Linked DNA regions of Homo sapiens: region 2 is linked to region 1. Evidence: fine-mapped expression QTL. A gene starts in region 1. The other region holds a variant in brackets. All regions are shown on one strand. Distances are between the middles of the regions. Region 1 holds the start of RDH16 (retinol dehydrogenase 16). Region 2 holds the start of SDR9C7 (short chain dehydrogenase/reductase family 9C member 7).

Evidence for each region. PIP is the estimated chance that this variant, and not a neighbour inherited with it, causes the effect.
Region 2: its variant is fine-mapped to the expression of RDH16 in whole blood (TOPMed, PIP 0.98).

What each region holds. Positions count from the first base shown.
Region 1 is chr12:56,952,519-56,964,619 of GRCh38, forward strand. It overlaps RDH16 (retinol dehydrogenase 16), which reads right to left and starts at 5,090. Exons shown (of 4, transcript NM_003708.5): 1 at 4,632-5,090; 2 at 2,388-2,646; 3 at 309-472. The coding sequence starts at 4,944.
Region 2 is chr12:56,930,033-56,942,133 of GRCh38, forward strand. It overlaps SDR9C7 (short chain dehydrogenase/reductase family 9C member 7), which reads right to left and starts at 4,376. Exons shown (of 4, transcript NM_148897.3): 1 at 3,929-4,376; 2 at 194-452. The coding sequence starts at 4,229. It also overlaps the pseudogene LOC100420982. The variant C/A (reference allele first, on the strand shown) is at 5,362.

The DNA of each region.
Region 1 (12,101 bases):
AAAAACAAGCTGTCTCTAATGCCAGCTTGTGATCAGCCACCAATGTCTTCCCTTTCTGGCTTCCCTTTGTTCCTCAGTAACGATGGGTTCAGATAGACACTGGTCCCAAGTTCTGAGAAGCCTGGACACTTGCTTTTCATGACCAGTTGACCACACAGCACCCATCATGGAAATGGGGCTAAAGGTCTCCACTCTGTGGGGAAGGGAGAGCCTGGGGATCAAACTCTAATGCCCTTCAGACACCAATGGTAGACCAAGGATTCCACACGAGGGTTTGCTTCTCTCCCCACTGTCCACAGCTTACTCACAGTCTGCAACAAACTTCTCGCCATAGGCCTCCTTGACCTCTGGACTGGACCGGTCCCAAATCTCCAGGAAGCTCTTTAAGAATCTCTCCTTACTGGTCACAGCAGTCTTGAAATAGCCAGGTTCAATCATAGCCACCTTCACCCCAAAGTAGGAGAGTTCCCTCCTGCAAGACAGAGAAGCAGAGGGGAAAAACTTCGGGGGTCTTGGAAGGTAAAACACAAACAATAAAAGTAAAACTATGATATCACAACATATGAGGACAATGGGTAAAATAGAAAGCTTGGAATATTTAATTTCCAGCAATCAAGGGGTCATAATTATCATGGTGGCATTCCCTCTGTATGGAGTTTCCATATTTTACACACCTGAGCTTACTAGCCCTAAATCCTACCAATTCCAAAGCAAGGCAGCACCTTAGTGCTGTCTCCTCCTATGTCCCTCACATCCAGTGGATCACCAGAATTCCCACATTTTGCCTCCTCTCCAGTCCTCAGTCCCCTCCCTCGTTTTCCTGCCCCAGGAATCTCCCTGGCCTCTGAGCTGGGTGATGGCAGCTGTCCTCTAAGAAGCATCTGTCTTCAGTCTGGCTCCCCACACTTACAACCACTGGGCTTCCTGCAGTCAGTGGGAGTCTAGAAGCTGACTGGACCAAGGAGCTCCCCTGAGCAAATCCCTTTTCTGGAGGGGGTTCCACTGCCAACAGCATAAGCCACAACTCCTGTCCAGGGCCCACAGGCCCTCAAGGAGCCCACCTATGACCACCTGCCCAGCATCCCCCACCAGGCTTGGCCTTGACCTTCACCACAAGAGGATTCTGCAGTACATGCAGGTGGCTAATGCTCACTCTGGGCCTGGGCTGATGGCATTCCTTCATCTAGGAGCCTTTCCCAGTCTTCCTTACCAGGCTGCCAGGTGGAGTTCTCAATCCCCAGCTTGAGTTTTCAATCCCCAGCTCAGATGGAATCTCCAGGACTCTCCTCAACTCAGGTGGGTACCATGGCCAGCAAGGTTGACTTGGTCACCAACCTTATAAGCATTGGCACTTGATTCTATATCTCTTGTCCCTCTCCCAGGTATCAAGTTTTAAGTCACAGACAAAACCTTGTTGTTAAGGATGGATTTTTGGCCACTTGGACAAGGGCCTAAAGTGTCTGTTGTGTGGACTCAGATGCTCTACCCATCGTCAAAGGGGCTCTGGATATGAATTCTGCTGGGAAAGACCATCTCCTGCATGCTGTCTTTGGGCCCCAGAGAGCCATGAAGGAATGGCCTCAGGGCTTGAAGCATTTCTCTCCCTAGAGAGGAAGAGCCCCAGAGCCAGGCACCCATCTCCTGGTGTGGAAATATCTTTCCCTGTTTCTGACTCAGTGAGTGCTCTTGCGTCTGCATGAGCTTGTGTGTGTCCGCGGCCCTAAGGCATGCCCCAGGTTTACAAGTATTTCAGATTCCTGGGAGGAGGGGTTGGGGTCCTTCTACTACAGCAAGAGAGGGGTGTTAGCAAGCCACATGCCCAGTGTCAGCTGCTGGGAGAGCCTCCCTGGCTAGGGGACCAACACACACTGCTGTAGCTGATCTTTCTCTGCTCCTTCTCTAGGGTGCAAAGCATTCTTCCATCCAGCACTGACTGCCTGGTCTGCCTTTGTGGCTCCAATACCAAGGTGCAATGGGAAGAAGTGTTTAGGGTCCTTCCCTGGGATTAGTCATTGATACACAGTGTTCCCCTGTCCTGGGCTTGGTAACCTCAGTACTGTGTTCCTCTTGGTAGGATCTGAAGCCAAAGATCCAGGTCCAATTCTGCCTCTGGCAGTTTCTGACCAAGAGATCCATCCAGGGAAGAGGTATCGTTCAAGAAACTCTCTGACCTGGGGCCCCTCCTGTCGCCCAGCACTCAGGAAGGTGCTTCCCAGTGAATGGCCAGCCCAATCCAGAAAGAGGAAGATGAGGGTGTCACACATGAAGACAGAGAGTGATCTCATGAAAGGAACTTACAGGCTGGGATTCAAGGAACTCCCTGGAAAAGACTTCCCCACAAGGACAGGAGCAGGAAGACTAGGGTGGGCCCCATCCCAGACCCATACCTGAGGGAGTCAGAGAAGGCTTCCACGCCATACTTGGAGATGCAGTAGCCTCCACCAAAAAGTGACACCCGGCCCATGACACTGGAGACGTTGACCACACGGCCCCTGGCCCTCCTCACTAAGGGCAGCAGGCTCAGAGTCACATCAATCACCCCCAACAAGTTCACGTCCAGTATGGTCACGAAGTCCTGCTTGGTGAGCAACTCATTGGGAGCCGTGGGCAAGGAGATGCCAGCATTATTCACCAGGCCCCAGAGTCCTGGGACAGTGGGAAGATGAGAGAGCATCACTGTGTTGTGCCTGTGCAGGTGGACAGAGTTAGGGTGCAAATCACATCCCAATAAAGTGAGGGCAGACTGACAGGTGTGGGATGGGGAGGAGGGTATAACAAACACCACAGTATCACAGGGGTGGGGGCTGAGCATTCAGCAGCTGGTGGGCCACAAAACCCAGGTCTTTCTCCATTTACTCTTCATGGACCAGCCTACTGCCTGAAAGACAATAAGCTATTACCCCTATTTAAGGACTGCATGAAATCATGTTAAAGAACTATTGTCCATGCATTAGTCTGGAAACATGAAGACCAATGTTTGGTTAGTTAAACATGAATGTTGCAGACATTACAGACATACAGCTGCATTTTCAGGTGTGCTAACACCTTATATAGTGATTGTCCAGCAACTATCTGTTGATGGAATAAGAGACAAGAAAGAGGGAGAGTGAGGGAGACAGGAAAGAGAGAAAGAGACAGACCTGAAATCCTAGGCTTGGGGGAACTTGGGAAACATCCTGTTTCCCAAGTGTTTGAACTCAGGGCACTGGTCTTGAAACATCCTGCATCAGTAACATTTTTATAGAAAGCACAGGGGAATTCCAATGCACAGGCTTTGGGAAGAAAGCAAGGTTGCGTCACCCCACTCAGTACACAGACTCCACCCTCTGCCCCAGAAAATGTCACCCTCTCCTCCTACTGCATCAGAAGCCCACTCTTCATCCTTCCCTTTAGTCCCAAGTTCACCCAGCTCTGGGAAAATCTCTCTGGAAGATGCAAATACACAATCCCCAGGACTTCAAGTCAATAGAGTTTTCAACCCACAGAGCTAGGGGGCAGGAGCACAGGGTCCCTTGAGTCCAGGCAGGGGGTGGCAGTTGTTGATCTGGAAGGGTTGGCCCAGGCATATGAACCTGTCCCCTGCTCAATAACAGGCCCTGCCCTGATGCAAATGCAGATTCCTCCACCCAGACATCTCATTTTTAAGAATCCAATCAATACTCACACTTACAGAGACGTTGGCAAATAAAAGTCCACCAAGATGACATTTATGATGAATAAAAAGCAGGAAGGAATTTCATATCCAACCACTCAGTATGGATTACATAGGTAAGGCTATTGGAAGGATACAGTATTCTAAATAATTAAATATAATTTTATAAAAACAGTCATTATGGTGGAAAAGTGTTCATCTTCTCCAGAGAATTTAAGGTGACTGAAACTAAGAACAAAATATAAAATCCTAATTTTGTATAATTGTAAAAAGGACTTATGTGTGGATGACAATTTCAGGGAAACTTGTTTTCATCTTTATTCTTTTCAGTGTTTTCCACAAAGATCATATTCTGATTTATTGTTACATAAAATAAATCCATGTTTCTTTCTTCCTCTATAATAAGACAGATGAATTAGTGTAGTGAAAAGAAGAAAGAAAGAAAAAGTAACCCCTTACTAGTTCTGCCTTCCTTAAGCAGTCCTTAAGCTGATACTCTCCTCTGAAGATGGAGATGATCGTAGCTCTCAGTGGACGCTGATGGGCCCTAGCAAAAACAAGGTAAAGTGCTGGGAACATAAGCCTGGCTCCAGCACAGGCACAGCCTCCGTGCACACTTGCAGCCCTGTGCTCCCTTCTCAACGATGCTCCAGCAAGTCTCCAGATCTCTAACCCAGGCTCTTAGCATCAAACAACACATGACTTCTGCTTAGACAGGAGGGAGAGGATAGAGAGGAATTCTGGAGAGAAAATCTCATCAGGGCAAACTCTCCCCAAGACTAGACACCTCCAATGTCGGGAGAGGTTAAGGATTGAAAAGAGATGGGGTTCAGGCAGCCTGTTAAGTGAGAAATATTAGAAAGCTACTGTTACTTCAACCTGGAAAGACACTGTAGGAATCTTCCCAGGGAGCAGACAGGAGGTGGTCCCTTCACACAGAGGGAAGACACAGACAGACTTGACAAACCTGGGTGGTTACCTTTGTCTCTCACGCACTCCTTCACCCACTGGGCGGCTGCAGCAACGCTCTCTGTCTTGGTAACATCCAGGGTCACCGTCTCCAGCCTGTCTGAAGTCTGGCCCCTCAGCTGCTCGGCTCCTTTCTCCGTCAGACATGCAGCCAGCACCCGCAAGCCTCGTGCATCCAGCTGTCTGGCCAGCAGTTTCCCGAAGCCAGAGTCACAGCCCGTGATGAACACATACTTATCTCTCAGGTGGCTCAGCACCTGCCTCTCCCGGTACCAGTGCAGAAGGTAGTACAGGCCCACGAAAACCGCCAGGTAGAGCCACATGGCTTTGCAGAGGACAGACACAGACAGGCTGTGGGGGAAACCAGAGTCTGGCCTCTGTTCAGACAGGAGGATTTAAGAACACAGAGGGCTGTGGTAGGCAGGGAAGCCCTCAGGCATTTTGGCAGGGAATCCTCACTTTCCTCCCTGATGACTGCCTTTCTGCAACATATTTATTCTGGCCCCACCTCTCTGCTCTTTGAACTGCTTTTGCAGTACTCATGCACACCTTTGCACACCTCAAGTCCTGCCCAGTAGGAAGATACTATCTTCCTACTGGGCAATGTGCCCCTAGTCTCCTGATTTCTCTCTGCCTTGCTATGCCCACTACATGCATGCTGTGTCCATGAAGGAGCACACACATATATTCACACAGGAACATACACAGAACTCACACAGGCTTACACACAGCTGCCCACACACACTCTCCATGGCAAACACACCCCTCTGCTCTAAGTACAGGGGTCAAAACTGTCTCTACAAAGCTCCGATACCAACACTCCTGGTCCATGACCTTCTGAACATAGAAAGGCCTTATTGGGTAGCTACCCATGGTTTCCAGGCACATTAGGTGGAAATCCCTCTCTGAGCCTGAGTTTCCTCATCCTGCTCCGCACCCCAGAATCAATCACTCCTCTGAAAACTAGGGCACGGTCAGGCTGTCTAGGATGAGAAGGAGAAGGCAAAGAGTGAGCAGGAACAGGTTCCCTCCTGCTATAATAGTTTTTTGGGGCAGAAGGATTGCAGGATCCCACAGGGAGAATCCAACCTCAGAGGTAAAGAAAGCAGGGAGAGGATGGGCAAATAGGAACAGCTCCGGTCTGCAGCTCCCAGTGTGACTGATGCAGAAAATGGGTGATTTCTGCATTTCCAGCTGAGGTACCTGGTTCATCTCACTGGGACTGGTTGGACAGTGCGTGCAGCCCACAGAGGGTGAGCCGAAGCAAGGCAGGGCATTGCCTTACCCAGGAAGTGTAAGAGGTCAGGGGATTTCCCTTTCCTAGACAAGGGAAGCCGTGACAGACTGTACCTGGAAAAACAAGACACTCCTGCTCAAATACTGCACTTTTCCAATGGTCTTAGCAAATGGCACACCAGGAGATTATATCCTGTGCCTGGTTTGGTGGGTCCCATTCCCACAGAGCTTTGCTCACTGCTAGTGCAGTAGTCTGAGATCAACCTGCAAGGCAGCAGCCTGGCAGGAGGAGGGTTGCTCACCATTGCTGAGGCTTGAGTAGGAAAGCAAAGCAGCTGGGCAGCTCAAACTGGGCGAAGCCCACTGCAGCAAGGCAAGGCTTTCTGCCTCTATAGACTCCACCTCTGGGAGCAGTGCATAACTGAACAAAAGGCAGCAGAAACCTCTGCAGACTTAAACATCCCTGTCTGACAGCACTGAAGAGAGCAGTGGTTCTCCCAGCATGGTGTTTGAGCTCTTAGAACAGACAGACTGCCTTCTCAAATGGGTCCCTGAACCCTGTGTAGACTAACTGGGAGACACCTCCCAGTAGGGGCCGACTGACATCTCATACAGGTGGGTGCCCCTCTGGGACGAAGTTTCCAGAGGAAGGATCAGGCAACAATATTTGCTGTTCTGCAATATTTGCTGTTCTGCAGCCTCTGCTGGTGATACCCAGGCAAACAGGGACTGGAGTGGACCTCCAGCAAACTCCAACAGACCTGCAGCTGAGGAAACTGTTTGAAGGAAAACTAACAAACAGAAAGAAATAGCTCAAAATCAACAAAAAGGACATCCACACCAAAACCCCATCTGTAGGTCGCCAACATCAAACACCAAAGGTAGATAAAACCACAAAGATGGGGAGATACCAGAGCAGAAAATCTGAAAATTCAAAAAACCAGAGTGCCTCTTCTCCTCCAAAGGATCACAGCTCCTTGCCAGCAACAGAAAAAAGCTGGATGAAGAATGACTTTGATGAGTTGACAGAAGTAGGCTTCAGAAGGTCAGAGTAACAAAATTCTCTGAGCTAAAGGAGGATGTTGGAACCCATCACAAGGAAGCTAACAGTCTTGAAAAAAAGATTAGATGAATGGCTAACTAGAATAAACAGTGTAGATAAGTCCTTAAATGACCTGATGGAGCCGAAAACCATGGCATGAGAACTACAGGATGCATGCATAAGCTTCAATAGCCAATTTGCTCAAGTGGAAGAAAGAATATCAGTGATTGGAGATCAAATTAATGAAATAAAGTGAGAAGAGAAGTTTGGAGAAAAAAGAGAAAAAGAAGTGAACAAAGCCTCCAAGAAATATGGAACTATGTGAAAAAACCAAACCTACGTTTGACTGCTGTACCTGAAAGTGACGGGCAGAATGAAACCAAGTTGGAAAATACTCTTCAGGTTATTATCCAGGAGAACTTCCCCAATCTAGCAAGGCAGGCCAACATTCAAATTTGGGAAATACAGAGAACACCACAAAGATACTCTTCAAGAAGAGGAACCCTAAGACATATAATTGTCATATTCACGAAGGTTGAAATGAAGGAAAAAATGTTAAGGGCAGCCAGAGAGAAAGGTCAGGTTACCTACAAAGGGAAGCCCATCAAACTAACAGTGGATCTCTCAGCAGAAACTCTACAAGCCAGAAGAGAGTGGGGGCCAATGTTCAACATTCTTAGAGAAAAGAATTTTCAACTCAGAATTTCATATCCAGCCAAACTAAGCTTCATAAGTGAAGGAGAAATAAAATTCTTTACAGACAAACTAATGCTGAGAGATTTTGTCACCGCCAGGCCTGCCTTACAAGAGCTCCTGAAGGAAGCACTAAACATGGAAAGAAACAACCAGTACCAGCCACTGCAAAAACATGCCAAATTGTAAAGACCATTGATGCTAGGAAGAAACTGCATCAACTAACGAGCAAAATAACCAGCTAACATCATAATGACAGGATCAAATTCACACATAACAATATTAACCTTAAATGTAAAAGGGCTAAATGCCCCAATTAAAAGACACAGACTGGCAAATTAGATAAAGAATCAAGACCCATCAGTGTGCTGTATTCAGGAAACCCATCTCACATGCAGAGACACACATAGGCTCAAAATAAAGGGATGGAGGAAGATCCACCAAGCAAATAGAAAGCAAAAAAAGAAAAAAAAAGCAGGGATTGCAATCCTACTCTCTGATAACACAGATTTTAAACCACCAAAGATCAAAAGAGACAAAGAAGGCCATTACATAACAGTAAAGGGATCAATTCAACAAGAAGAGCTAACTATCCTAAATATATATGTACCCAATACAGGAGCACCCAGATTCATAAAGCAAGTCCTTAGAAACCTACAAAGAGACTTAGACTCCCCAATAATAATGGGAGATTTTAACACTCCACTGTCAATATTAGACAGATCAATGAGACAGAAGGTTAAAAAGGATATCCAGGACTTGAACTCAGCTCTGCACCAAGCGGACCTAATAGACATCTACAGAACTCTCCACCCCAAATCAACAGAATATACATTCTTCTCAGCACCACATCACACTTATTCCAAAATTGACCACATAGTTGGAAGTAAAGCACTCCTCACCAAATGTAAAAGAACAGAAATCACAACAAACTGTCTCTCAGACCACACTGCAATCAAATTAGAACTCAGGACTAAGAAACTCACTCAAAACCACACAACGACATGGAAACTAAACAACCTGCTTCTGAATCACTACTGGGTACATAACGAAATGAAGGCAGAAATAAAGATGTTCTTTGAAACCAATGAGAACAAAGACACAATGTACCAGAATCTCTGGGACACATTTACAGCAGTGTGTAGAAGGAAATTTATAGCACTAAATGCCCACAAGAGAAAGCAGGAAAGACAAGAAATCGACACCCTAACATCACAATGAAAAGAACTAGAGAAGCGAGAACAAACAAATTCAAAAGCTAACAGAAGGCAAGAAATAACTAAGAGCAGAACTGAAGGAGATAGAGACACAGAAAACCCTTCAAAAAATCAATGAATCCAGGAGCTGGTTTTTTGAAAAGGTCAAAAAAAATGGATAGACCACTAGCAAGACTAATAAAGAAGAAAAGAGAGAAGAATCAAATAGACACAATAAAAAATGATAAAGGGGATTTCACCACTGATCCCACAGAAATACAAACTACCATCAGAGAATACTATAAATACCTCTATACAAATAAACCAGAAAATCTAGAAGAAATGGATAAATTCCTGGACACATACACCCTCCCAAGACTAAACCAGAAAGAAGTGGAATCTCTGAATAGACCAATAACAGGCTCTGAAATTGAGGCAATAATTAATAGCCTATCAACCAAAAAAAGTCCTGGACCAGATGGATTCACAGCCCAATTCTACTAGAGGTACAAAGAGGAGCTGGTACCATCCCTTCTGAAATTATTCCAATGAATAGAAAAAGAAGTAATCCTCCCTAACTCATTTTATGAGGCCAGCATCATCCTGATACCAAAGCCTGGCAGAGACACAACAACAAAAAAGAGAATTTTAGACCAATATCCCTGATGAATATCGATGCAAAAATCCTCAATAAAATACTGGCAAACCAAATCCAGCAGCACATCAAAAAGCTTATCCACCATGATCAAGCTGGCTTCATCCCTGGGATGCAAGGCTGGTTCAACATACACAAATCAATACACATAATCCATCACATAAACAGAACCAATGACAAAAACCACATGATTATCTCAATAGATGCAGAAAAGGCCTTTGACAAAATTCAACAGCACTTCATGCTAAAAACTCCCAACAAACTAGGTATTGATGAAACATATCTCAAAATAATAAGAGCGATTTATGACAAATCCACAGCCAATATCATACTGAATGGGCAAAAACTGGAAGCCTTCCCTTTGAAAACTGGTACAAGACAGGATGCCCTCTCTCACCTCTCCTATTCAACATAGTGTTGGAAGTTCTGGCCAGGGCAATCAGGCAAGAGGAAGAAATAAAGGGCATCCAATTAGGAAAAGAGGAAGTCAAATTGTCCCTGTTTGCAGATGACATGATTGTATATTTAGAAAACCCCATCGTCAGCCCAAAACGTCCTTAAACTGATAAGCAACTTCAGGAAAGTCTCAGGATACAAAATCAATGTGCAAAAATCTCAAGCATTCCTATACGCCAATAGCAGGCAAACAGAGAGCCCAATCATGAGTAAACTCCCATTTACAATTACTTCAAAGAGAATAAAATACCTAGGAATCCAACTTACAAGGGATGTGAAGGACTTCTTCAAGAAGAACAACAAACCACTGCTCAATGAAATAAAAGAGGACACAAACAAAGGAAGAACATTCCATGGTCATGGATATGAAAAATCAATATCATGAAAATGGCCAGCTCTCCCTCTCCCTCTCCCTCTCCGTCTCCCTCTCCCCACGGTCTCCCTCTCCCTCTCTTTCCACTGTCTCCCTCTGATGCCGAGCGGAAGCTGGACTGTACTGCTGCCATCTCGGCTCACTGCAACCTCCCTGCCTGATTCTCCTGCCTCAGCCTGCCCAGTGCCTGCGATTGCAGGCGCGCGCCGCCACGCCTGACTGGTTTTTGTATTTTTTTGGTGGAGACGGGGTTTCACTGTGTTGGCCGGGCTGGTCTCCAGCTCCTAACCGCGAGTGATCCGCCAGCCTCGGCCTCCCAAGGTGCCGGGATTGCAGACGGAGTCTAGTTCACTCAGTGCTCAATGGTGCCCAGGCTGGAGTGCAGTGGCGTGATCTCGGCTCGCTACAACCTCCACCTCCCAGCCGCCTGCCTTGGCCTCCCAAAGTGCTGAGATTGCAGCCTCTGCCCGGCCACCACCCCATCTGGGAAGTGAGGAGCGTCTCTGCCTGGCCGCCCATAGTCTGGGACGTGAGGAGCCCCTCTGCCTGGCTGCCCAGTCTGGAAAGTGAGGAGCGTCTCTGCCCAGCCGCCATCCCATCTAGGAAGTGAGGAGCCCCTCTTCCCGGCCGCCATCCCATCTAGGAAGTGAGGAGCGTCTCTGCCCGGCCGCCCATCGTCTGAGATGTGGGGAGCGCCTCTGCCCTGCCGCCCCGTCTGGGATGTGAGGAGCGCCTCTACCCGGCCGCAACCCCGTCTGGGAGGTGAGGAGCGTCTCTGCCCGGCCGCCCCGTCTGAGAAGTGAGGAGACCCTCCGCCTGGCAACCGCCCCGTCTGAGAAGTGAGGAGCCCCTCCGCCTGGCAGCCACCCTGTCTGAGAAGTGAGGAGCCCCTCCGCCTGGCAGCCACCCTGTCTGGGAAGTGAGGAGCGTCTCCGCCTGGCAGCCACCCCGACCGGGAGGGAGGTGGGGGTCAGCCCCCGCCAGGCCAGCCGCCCCGTCCAGGAGGGAGGTGGGGGGGTCAGCCCCCCGCCCGGCCAGCCGCCCCGTCCGGGAGGGAGGTGGGGGGGTCAGCCCCCCGCCCAGCCAGCCGCCCCGTCTGGGAGGGAGGTGGGGGGGTCAGCCCCCCGCCCGGCCAGCCGCCCCATCTGGGAGGTGAGGGGTGCCTCTGCCTGGCCGCCCCTACTGGGAAGTGAGGAGCCCCTCTGCCCGGCCACCACCCCGTCTGGGAGGTGTACCCAACAGCTCATTGGGAACGGGCCATGATGACAATGGCGGTTTTGTGGAATGGAAAGTGGGGAAAGGTGGGGAAAAGATTGAGAAATCGGATGGTTGCCATGTCTGTGTAGAAAGAGGTAGACATGGGAGACTTTTCATTTTGTTCTGTACTAAGAAAAATTCTTATCCTGTTGATCTGTGACCTTACCCCCAACCCTGTGCTCTCTGAAACATGTGCTGTGTCCACTCAGGGTTAAATGGATTAAGGGCCGTGCAAGATGTGCTTTGTTAAACAGATGCTTGAAGGCAGCATGCAAATCAAAACCACTATGAGATATCATCTCACACCAGTTAGAATGGCAATCATTAAAAAGTCAGGAAACAACAGGTGCTGGAGAGGATGTGGAGAAATAGGAACACTTTTACACTGTTGGTGGGACTGTAAACTAGTTCAACCATTGTGGAAGTCAGTGTGGCGATTCCTCAGGGATCTAGAACTAGAAATACCATTTGACCCAGCCATCCCATTACTGGGTATATACCCAAATGACTATAAATCATGCTGCTATAAAGACACATGCACATGTATGTTTATTGCGGCACTATTCACAATA
Region 2 (12,101 bases), 22 kb before region 1:
GTATTTCCACCCTACCTCTTCTCCTCATCCCTGCTCTTGGTCCTTGGAGAAAGCACCTTGAGGTCTAACCTTCCTTCTGCTATTGTGTTAGCTTCCTGTCTGCGGAATTCCCCTGCCCACATGCTGTCACTCCCAACCCTCTCTAATCTCTGGGATTTTCACCCAGAATTGTTCAGTACCAGGGCCCAGTTACCTTATGCTGTCAGAGAAGGCCTCAACGCCAAACTTGGAGACGCAGTAGCCACCACCAATGACAGCCACACGACCACCAGAGCTGGACATGTTGACAACCCTGCCCCGGGCTCTCTTGACCATGGGCAGCATGTGAAGGGTCACTTCGATCAGTCCCACCAGGTTCACATTAATCACCTTCACAAAGTCATCCTTGGTCAGCCATTCGTTGGGACCACTGGGCAGGCCCACACCAGCATTGTTCACCAGGGCCCAGAGGCCTGGGGGTGAGATGAACCACACAGAAATCATCAGTGGGCCTGGGAAAGAACCAAGTTCTGCTCCCCACCGGCTCAGTGCCCTCAAGGATGGTTGAGCAGGTGCACAAGACATAACTCGGTCAGGCTATAACATAAAAGGAAGGTGTGTCTTTTACTAACTCGTTTTCCCTGAAGGGACACTTTTTCCTGATTCACATAAAGTCTGCCGGCTAGCTGGCGCTCTGTACTAGCTACAATCGAGGTGTTAGGTGACAGCATTTCAGCTATCAGCTTTGGGATAAGAGTTTCATTTTCATACCAATGAATTAATGTTTAGATCCCTTCCCCATCATACTTCTCCCTCTCTATTCACTTAAGTATAACCAACTGCATTTCACATACTACCAAAATCAATCCATTCATTCATTCATCTTCACACATTTATTCATGCATTTATCTAGTCTGTGACAATTACAGGGTGAAGGAGGCCAGGTGCAGTGACTCACACTTGTAATCACAACCCTTTGAGAGGCTGAGGTGGGAGGATCACTTGAGGCCAGGAGTTTGAGACCAGCCTGAGCAACAGAGTAAGACCCCTGTCTCTACAAAAAAAGAAAAAAAATTAGTCAGGCGTGGTGGTATGTGCCTGTAGTTCTAGCTACTTGGGAGGCTGAGGTGGGAGAATCACTTGAGCCCGGGTTACAGGTTACCTTGTTCGAGGTTACAGTGAGCTATAATGGTGCCATTGCACTCCAGCCTGGGTGACAGAGTGAGACTCTGTCTCTAAAAATAAAATGAAATAAAACGATATAAAATAAAATAAAGTAAAATACAGGGCAAAGGAGACATAAAATGAACAACACAGCATCTTATCCCTCAAGGAACTCACAAGCCTAGAAGGAAATAATAATATTTATAAATAAATATATAAAATATTTAAATAAAATAATTATGGAAAATGTGATGAGGACTATCCTTGAGATATTTCAATTAGGTTGGTACAAATGGAAAGAAATAATGCTAAGTGTTGTCATTCAACTCTGCAGGGGCCCAGGGTTGAAGAGCTTCAGGTCCAGTCCTGGTTTTACCTCCAGCCTTGAACAAGTCACTTCCCTCTCTGGGCCTCAGGCTCTTCATCAGATTAGACTAAAACAGTTGTTTCCAGGCTGTATTTTGCAAGCCTTCTAGGGGGAGGAAAATGCAGGAGAAGCTCTCCTTTCATTTGTTTTACATATTGGGGTTCTACTGTAAACCCCTCTAAACACTCCTCAAGGACCCCTTCCAGCTCCTTCATGCAAGGATTCCCCAAGTCCTACTGCCTGGTGATTCGCACCACAGCCCCAGCCTCAGCAGCCCCAAGATACTCTGCAGGCGCATCCCACTGTCTCCTGAGGGCAGGTCTCAACACAAACATAAATCCTAGTCCACCCCTCCCTCTAGGGCTGGGGTCCCCACCCAAGCCATGCCCCTACCCAGTCTCCCTGCCTTTCTCCATTCAGGAGCAATGAGAAAGCATGAAAGAACTTCCTCTCCCATCCCCCTACCCACCCCAGTTCCCAGTGTTTCTTAGACCAGGATATTGCCAAGTGGCTTAGGCAAAATAATGGTCCCCCAAAGATGTCCCCATCCTCATTATCTCTGGAACCTGTGAATCTGCTGGATTACATGGGAAAGGGGAATTAAGGTTGCAGGTGGAATGGAGGTTGCTAATTAATTGTCCTTAAAGTTAGGGAGGAAGCTAACACGGGAAATTATCCTGGATTAACCTGGTGAGCCCAATATAATCACAAGTCCTAAGTGGAAAGAGGCAGAAACCGGAGAATCAGAGAGCTTGAGAAAAGTGTGAAAAAGACTGGGCCCAACCTTGCGGGCCTTGAAGATGGAGGTAGCAGGCCAGGAGCCAGGGGATGCCAGCTGCCTCTGGAAGCTGGAAAAGTCGATGAGACGGATTCTCCTCTACAGCCTCTAGAAGGAACACAGCTCTGCTGACTTTGATTTTAGATCAGTGAGGCCTATTTTAGACATTACTCCTCCACAACTACAAGATAATATGTTTGTATTGTCTTCAGACCCCACAGTTGTGTTATTTGTTACAATAGCAACAGGAAACTCACATGCTAAGTGAGGTATTAAGGCAAGTGGCTCAAGGCTGAATGTAGGGAACTGGCTGAGACAGCCTGCTGAAGACAGAGGCTCACTCTTGCTGAATTATTAATTAATTAGCTCACTCAAATCTATTTATTCAGTACCTTACTAGGTGCCAGACATTATTCTAGGTACTAAGGATGTACAGTAAATAAAAGGGACAAAAATCCTTGTCCCCAGGAAGCTTTATTCTAGCAGAGGAAACAGACAATAAATAAGTAAAATCTATTGTACATTGACTAGTGATAAGTGCTAAGGAGAAGAATCAAGCAGGGAGTTACTGTCTAGATCCCCCTGGCTCCAGGGCTCTGTTGCCCTGACCTGCGCATGGGCTCCAGACTAGTTCCTTTAGGAGGGAGGACTTCCTCTAGTCTGCTGCTTCTGCAACTCAGCCATCCTGTTCCTCCTGTTCCTGGGCCCACACCCTGTGTGCTGGAAGTGCATGAGGCAGGTCCCCACACAGTCCTGGGCCAGCCCCAGTCCACAGCTTCCTTTCCCAATAGGAGCAGCCACTGTGACATACATACTTGCCCTGAAGTCAAATCAACACCCACCATGATGTCAAGAAGAGACCAGATCTCTTTCTCCCCTGCCTGACATAGTCAAGGAGACAAACTGCACCCACTCATGGGATCCAGCCTCCTGTCTCATTCCCCCTCCCCCATCCTGATCCCAACAAGAAATGTGTTTGTATTTCCCCAGGAGCTGATGGTTAGGACTGCTGAAACATCAGAGAGGCACATCCTTTTTTTTTCTTTTTTTTCTTTTTGAGAGGGATTCTTGCTCTGTCACGAGGCTGGAGTGCAGTGGCGCAATCTTGGCTCACTGCAACCTCCGCCTCCCGGGTTCAAGTGATTCTCCTGCCTCAGCCTCCTGAGTAGCTGGGACTACAGGCACGTGCCACCACACCCAGGTAATTTTTATACTTTTTAGTAGAGATGGGGTTTCACCATGTTGGCCGGGATGGTCTCGATCTCTTGACCTCATGATCCTCCCACTTCGGCCTTCCAAAGTGCTGGGCTCATAGGCGTGAGCCACCACGCCCAGCCAGGCACGTCCATTTTTAGAGGTTTGGACACACAGAACACATCTTCCCCCCTCGCTTCCTATTGAGACCTCTTTCCCGTTTCTCTGAGTTTCCAGGACAGAAAACTTCCTTGGGAAATCACCCCTTCATGTGAACAGGCCAAACCATGCAGTGGCTTCCAATCAGATTGAGGCAGGGGCCTTTCCCTACATCACCCCTCCCACCCAATCTGGACATCAGGGTCTCTGATACTGTCAGATGCTTCGGGAGAGAGGAAGAGGAAGAAGGAGAAACCAAGAAAGCCAAAGAATGTAATTCGCCCCACCTTGTTCGCCCACTTTGTCCCTCACCCACTGGGCCGCCGCCTTGATGCTTTCGCTCTTGGTGACATCCAGTAGGGTGGTCTGCAGCCGATAGGAGGTATCCCGCTGAAGTTTCTGGGATCCCTCCTCAGTGAAGCAAGCAGCCAGCACCTGCATGCCCCGATCAACCAGCTGTTTGGCCAGCAGGTTCCCGAAGCCAGAGTCACAGCCTGTGATGAAGACGTACTTCTCTGAGAGGTTGCCAACCAGATTGCAGTTCTTGAACCAGCGATACATAAATGAGAGGTCTGTGAGGGCCGCCATAGGGCAAGGGGAATGTGATGGCCAAGAGGGACTGGGCTCAGGAGACAGCAGGGAAGAAGCTGGTCCTCTGAGCCCTAGCAGGCAGTCTGCAGGAAACCACCTGGAAGAAGAACTCTCCTTCCTCCCACAGCTTGCAACAAATCTAGGTCCCTGGGTGAGCCACGCTGTAATTTTTATAGGTGGATGCATCACCACAGCAATTAGCCCAGATGCAAGAAATTCAAGTCCAACCTGAAGCCTTGTCACCTCTGACAGCCCTGGTAGCTGCCTCCCTCTCTCCCCCTGCCCTGATGGGTAAAGCTGCCAAGAATTGGAAATAATCCACTTGTAATGTTGGTGATGAGTGGTGGCTCACCCAGGCGGTGTAAGGCAGGCAAATGAAAGATGAGGACTCACCCCAGACAGCTCCCCTAGAAATCCTGTCCCCACCCTGCCCCCAACCCAGCCTGGGGATTTTGGTCTCCAGGGATCAAAATCATTTGTCGTGAGTGCAGGTATGTAAATAAGTTTATTTTCAGGGAAAATACTCAAGACAAATTTATTAATGTAAAACAAACAACATTGGTTCTGTACCTTCCAAACCCCAAGAGAAACAAGTCGCAGGTCATCAGCTCTCTGGAATTCTTAGGTAAGTCTCCATCATGAGAGAGGATGAAAAGCAATGGATTTCTCCTAGGGTGGATGTACCTCCATTGTCCTGAGGCTAGAGGCAGCAGGGCCCTCCTATAGGGGAGGCTGGCATGTGAAGCTTAGCCACCAGAAAGCAGAAAGACCTGGGGGACTCAGGCCTGACACCCTGTGGGGGTCATACTCAGGTCACCAGTAAGCAGCCCTGGGCAAGATGATGAGGAGGGATCATGAGTTCACTGGGCAGCTGAGGGAATTGTCTGGGCAGAGGCCTTGACTGTAAGAGGGGATGAGATATAGGAGGAGCAGAGAACTGGGGCCAGAGACATAGAAAATTCTCAGGGTCGGGACTTGGAGGAGAAACAGAGATTCTAGGCAATTTAGCAAATAATTTACAGAAAGCTAAGAGGTAAGGTGGTAAAGGAAAGGAAATAAGGAAACCAGAGGTGTGAGTAGTGAGGGGCCACACCCAGAATTGCATAAGATGCAGGGAATGATGCTGGAG[C/A]CTCTGTGGTTCTTTGGATCAACATCTAGGGTCACCATTCCTTGGGATGAGCCTGGTCCTAGCTCACACCTTCATGGCTTAGCGAGTCTGACACAGAAATGGGACCACAAAGTTCTCTAGTGTGAAGGGACAAAGGATGTATCTCTGTGATCCACCATTTGCCAAGTCTGACCAGCGTGGAATCACATAAAGCAGGTGTCACCCTGGGAAAGCCCCGCAGGGTTTGGCCGTTCCTTAACAAAGTAGGGGAGGGGGCCAGATTATGAACCCACCCCCAAAGAGCAGACCTAAAGCTTATAGGGGATGGAGGTGGGAAATGGTAGAAAGCAAACCACACCTACTTCATAACCAACCTGAGGCAGAGCACCTCCTATGCGGGATCTGGGAACAATCTCCCAGTCTCTGTCTGCCTCCTGGGTGAATGAACAGAGAAGTCTTGGCTGAAACAGGTCAGACCATGTCACTCAAGACTGAGCAGGTCCGGGGCATTGGGTATCCCAGTCCTTGAGGACACAGGTGAGGTCCAGGAGTTGGGTCTGACTTAGCATAAGGATAACTCAGAACTGCCCCAGCACAGGCCTGGGCCTGACTCAGCACCTCCTGGGCCTCTATGCTGGCAGTGTTCCCCTGGCCTCAAACTAAACACACAGTCCATGAGGGTGGGGGGTGTGAGGGAGGTAGGACCACATAGAAGGCTCTTCTTCCCAGGGCTAGAAATGCCTCCCTCTCTCAGATGACAGCATTCCTTGCCAAGCTGGCCCCTAAGGTCTGATAGGTCAGGTTGGTAGCTGCACTCCCCATCCCCACCCCATGCACACAGGTATCTCAGAGGAGAGGAGCCCTCTCCTCTGCCAGGCCATTTCCCTCCAGTGGGAGAGCATAGACTGCTGAGGTCCAAGACACACCCTGATGAGGTAGACAGGAGGAAGAGCAGGTGTGGGCTCACCCACCCCCAGTTGCTCAAGACCTTCCACAAGTGTGGATTCTTCAGGTTGACAGGTGGGCCATGAAGCTCAGAGCCCAAGGAAGTGGGATGCCATTATCTGTGATTGGGTCTCCCTTCCTAAGCAGCAAAATGTGGTTCTTTCCTCCTAATATCACCAGAGTCCTGAATAACGTCCCAGAAAAAAACTAGAACAGAGGTGAGGGAAGTGAGGTACATGACCCTGAACTTGAGAGCTCCCTCCCACCACTCTATTTCTCACCCCATGAAACAGCACCCCTCCCAAGTGCAATGATGTTAAAGTGAGGGCCGGTCACTGAGTGCTACAAAGAGGTCGCTACAAAGTGCTACAAAGAGGCCTGCCAGTGCCTTTGTGACATGTCATTGCTTCCTTGTCCCTCTGTGCACTCCTGTGACCCCAGGCTACTTGATTCACTCCTGGAAAGGAAACAATTGCCCCTCACCTTGGTGGCAGAAAGGGCTGAGACAGGGCAGGGATAATCCAACTTCTCTCTTCAATTTCCTCCTGAGTTCATCCCTCTTATCCCCAGATCCCCATGAAGGCACCTGCCTCCTCCTCCCTCTTGTTCACAGCCCATGCTCCCCTCAGACTAGAAGGCAACTTGCTGCACATGGCTGCACTTTTTAGCTTTTGCTCTAGAACTAAAGTAACCAGATGGTTTTTTGAGGGTCATGGTTTCAAGAGGGTCAAACATTGGTTCCTGTGTCCTCTGTCCGAATCCCTATTGAGAACACCACTGCCAGCCAATGGTTTTAAGAGGGTCAAACATTGGTTCCTGTGTCCTCTGTCAGAATCCCTATCGAGAACACCACTGCCAGCCAATGCCCCCAGAGCTGGCACCTGAGGTCTAGGGGTCAGGCTGATGGCTGCCCTGTCGCCCCACACCTTATCCACAGGTATATTCAGAGGAGCCCCCATCCACTTCCTCCAGGCCATTTCCATCATGGAGAGAGTGTAATAGACTGGCCAGGTTGATGCACACCTGGGGAAGAAGCAGGAGGCAGAGAAGGTGTGGGCTGTGGATCCTTCCCCTCCTCACACGCTCCCATTGTGTAGACTCCTCAGAATTGGCCAAGAGACTCAAAGGCAACAGGACACCTATGAGCGTTACTGGGTCCCAATCTTTAGAAGAACACCTTGGTTCTTTCCTCCTATGTTGCCAGTCCTGAGTGATATCTCAGTGGAATTCTGTGGAGGGCATGAGGAAGAAGCTGGGATAGGCATCCAAATGGCAAGAGTGCTCCCTCCCACCACACCATTACTCTCCCCAAGACACATCACCTCACCCAGATCACCCAGCTCCACCCAACCATGCACCCCAGTCTTGGATTCACAGGGGCTTAGCCAGCCTTGGAGAGCCCCAGTTGAGCGTGACGTCCATAGGAAGGTAGGCATGTCGCTCATGGGGAGGTAGAGAAGATTGGTGTCTCAGCCAGCTGAGTAGTGAGCGCTCCATGCAGTGGGTCAACAAGGATAGATTCGTACTGCATTTTGCCCAAAGCCTTCTAGATGCTTTTCTGATGCATGTTAAGGATGAGGAAAGATCCTTAAAGTACTAGCACATCCCTTCCCTCCCATTTAGAGCTCTGAATTAGGAGGACAGTGTCTAAGAATTCCAGGCCCCCCAAATGATATGCCTCAAGTCTAATCCATCCATATTCCCCAGAGAGTGCCCCAACCTTCACCCAAGGAACATCCGTTTCACTCTAAGCCCCCTCTGCCTCTCTTTTTGAGATATCTGGACTCATAAATGGAAGGTCTCTACTAACAGCCTAAGAATATGAAAATCAGCTATCTCTAAACCCAGCTGCCCATGAGCCCACTGGTAGCCACTGTCTCTGACTTTAGTTTCCTCTTCAAAATAATGAGGGATTCAGATGAGGCAGTGGTCCCAATTATAGAAAGCTTGGATGCTTCCTTTAGGTGAACAGTTGACCACATGGCACCCTGGGAATGGGGATAAATGTCCTCACTTTTTTGGGGAGGCAGAGTTTGGAGGACAGATTCTCATACTGTTGGAGGCACTAATGATGGACCCAGACTTCTAGACAAGGATTTCTTTATCTCCCCACTGTCCACAGCTCACTCACGGGATATCAGAAACTTCTCCCCATACGTCTCCTTGACCTCGGGGCTGGCCTAGTCCGACAGCTCCTTGAGGTTCTGTAAATGCCTCTCAGAGCCGGCCATACTGGTCCTGAAGTGACCAGGTTCAATCACAGACACCTTCACTCCAAAGTGGGAGAGCTCCCTCCTGCATGGCAGACATGCAGAAGGGCAAGGACTTAAGAAATTTTGGGAGGCAAAATACAAAAAACAAAGAAACCCAATACAAACCCAGCATGCAACGACAGTGGGAGATGCAAGAAAGCTTGGAGAGTTGGGAAGGGCAGCAGATAGCAGATAAAAGTTATGATGGTGGCCTTGCCTCTCTCTGGGGTTTCCATATTTTACATACCAAAGCTTACTAGCCCTAAGTCCTACCAATTCAAGAGCAAGGCAGCATCTCAGTGCTATCACCTCCTATGCCCCTCACATCCAATGGATCACCAGAATTCCCACATTCTACCTCCTCTGCAGTCCTCAGTCCCCTCCCTTCTTCTCCTGCCCCAGGAATCTCCCTGGCCTCTGAGCTGGGTGATGGCAGCTGTCCTCTAAGGAGCGTCCCTCTGCCTTCAGTCTGGCTCCCCACACTCACAGCCACTGGGCTCCCTGCAGTAAGTGGGTGTCTAGAAGCCGATTAGACCAAAGAGCTCCCCTGAGCAAATCCCTTCTTTGGGGGTTCCACTGCCAACAGCATGAGGCACAGCTCCTGTCCAGGGCCTCCACGAGCCCATATGAACCCACCTGCCCAGCCTCCTCCACAGGCCTGGCCCTGTGCTTCACCTCATGAGGACCCCACAGCACAGGCAGGCAGCTGAGGCTCCCCCTAGGTCTGGGCTGAAGACAAAAGTCATTCCCCCATTTCTGTTCAAGGCTGCCAGGTGGGGATCCTCAATCTCCAGCTCAGATCCCACTGCCAGGACCCTCCCCAGCTTAGGAGGCTGCCATGGCCACCAGGGCTGACTGGGTCACAACCCCTATGAGAACTGGCAACAATGGTTCTGGCTCTCTTGCTCCTCTCTCAGGTGTCAGAGCTTTTAGGTCAGGGCCAAAACCCTGTTGTTGTCCTAGGCTGAGTTTATTGGGTACTCTTCCAAGGGCCACAAGAGTATATTGTATGGACTCAGATGCTCTCCCCATGCCTCCAGGACCCAACAAATATCTCTCCAAGGGAGAGAGACAGAGACAGGAAAACAGGAAGACAGGAATGGGGTAAGACAGAGAAACCAAGGGGAAAGGACAGAAGAGAAAGGAAAATGGAAGGAAAGAATAAGAAAAACACATAAATAATTGCTTTCTGCATCCTGGTTAAGAGAGATACACTTAAATCCTAAGACTGGGGGAAGTTAGAGAGCAGGCCTGCACTGGGCATCAGGGGACAAGCTGTGCTACAACCTGCATCAATGTCAAGGCAATATCTGTCCTGGAAGAAAAGGTCACCTTGTGTACCTGGGAGTCCCAAAGCTCACTGTGGACTGAATGGCCAGAGCAGGAGGGGAGGAAGGAAAGAGGTCTCATGCCACACAGGTGTCCAGACTGCACTCTCTGCCCCAGGAAGTACCACCTTTTCCTCCCACCATCTCATAAGGCCACCTCTGCCCTATCCCCATAGGGTCCAGCAAGCTTTGGGGAAGACTCTACAGAAGACATAGGGGAGCAAACTAATAGCATGAAAGATCTGGAGCAGTCAGAGCTACAGAACTACGGACTCCAGGCCAGCAGGGGCAGGGGTGTGAGTGGGTGAGGGCTGGGGGGTACAGGAGACGGAGACTGACCCTAGGAATATTGGAAAAACAATAAGGCCTGCAATGGTGGCCCTTCCCCTACTCAGAAACCTTTCCTGGACTTGAAGGAATGAGGATTCTTTGATTCAATAGTTGTACTTTTCTTGAATAGCACTGCTAAGCCTGTCAACAAACCTTGGTAGAGAATCGCTACTGAGATGTTATTTATGCCAGGAAAAGTGGGTAACAAACTTCGGCATTCAACAATATAGAATCCCTTTAACAAATTATGGCCTCTCCACATGCTGGAATATGGAGACCTTGATTGTTATGTTGGGGAAGAAACTTGATGATGAAAATGCTGACCCCAGAATGTGTAAAGTAGAGGGAAATTAACCCTGGAGGCTGGGATTAGGGGGAATGTTGTTTCACTCTCATCCTCTTCTATGATTTCTCCAATGAGAAATCCTATCTTATCCTCCTATCTATCCAATCTTATCCTCTTCTATAATTTCTTCATGTTTTCCATTTACAATCAGAACAAAGCAATCAATGATCTCCCTTTCCCCAAAAGGAACAGGATTCATCACTCGGTGTTTGATGTGAAGTCCCTTCAGCTCTCCAAGCCCCAGTGTCCTCGTGAATCAAGCGGAGATCATCTTAAAGCCCTCAACAGGGACAAGTGTGAAGGAACCAGTAAGAGAATGCTGAGATCAGAAGCCTGGATCCTGCCCAGCCCCATCCCCGATGGTCTCATGCCAACCGTCAGGACCCAACGTTATCCAGAGACTGGGCTCTAACCACAGCCTGGACTCCTCTAACCCTGGGCCCAGCCACAACCACTCTAGGACTTCTGCTTTGGAAAGCAGAAAGCTCAAGCCCCCGAAAATAAAAGTCCTGGAAATGTTCCCAGTTAGCAGACACTAGGTCTCCCCTAGTGACACAGAGAGAAGAGAAACAAACAGGCACTAGGAGGGATTGAGGTGGTCCCTCTGTCCCCCACACACTCCTTCACCCACTGGGCAGCTGCAGCAATGCTCTCTGTCTTGGTGATGTCCATGGTCACCGTCTCCAGCCTGTCTGAAGTCTGGCCCCTCAGCTGCTTGGTCCCCTTCTCTGTCCTACATGCAGCTCCCGCAAGCCTGTGCATTCAGTTGTCTGGCCAGTAGCTTCCTGAAGCGTGAGTCACAGCTCATGATGAACACTATGTGTCTCTCAGCTGGCTCACCACCTGCCTCTCCCAGTATGAGCACAGAAGGTAGTACAGGCCCTGGAGGACCACCAGGTAGAGCCACATGGCTTTGCAGAGGACAGACCCAGGTAGGCTGGGGTGAAATGAGAGTCTGGCCTCTGTTCAGACAGGAGGATTTAAGAACACAGAGGGCTGAGGTAGGCAGAGAAGCCCTCAGGCATTTTGGCAGAAAGTCTTCACTTTCCTCCCTGATCACTGTCTTTCTGCAACATTTTTTTTTATCCTGGCTTCATCTCTCTACTATTTTGAACTGCCTTTGCAAGTACTCATGCATGCAGTTGCAAACCCCAAGTCCTGCCCAGTAGGAAACTACTATGACTCAGCAATGCTTCCCTAGTCCACAAATTTCTCTCTGCATTGCTGTGCCCACACAGATGTTTATGTGGGTGCAAACGTGTATTGACACAGGCTTACACACAGCAGCCCCCACACACTCTCCATAGCAAACACACCCCTCTGCTCTAAGTACAAGGGTCAGAACTGTCTCTACAAAGCTGCTGTACTGACACTTCTGGTCCATGACCTTCTGAGCACAGAAAGACCTTATTGGGAAGCTACATATGGTTTCCAGCCACATTAGGTGGAAATCCCTCTCTGAGCCTGAGATTCCTCATCCCGCTCAGCACCCAGAATCAATCACTCCTCAGAAAACTGGGTCATGGTCAGGCTGTCTAGGATGAGAAGGAGAAGCCGAAA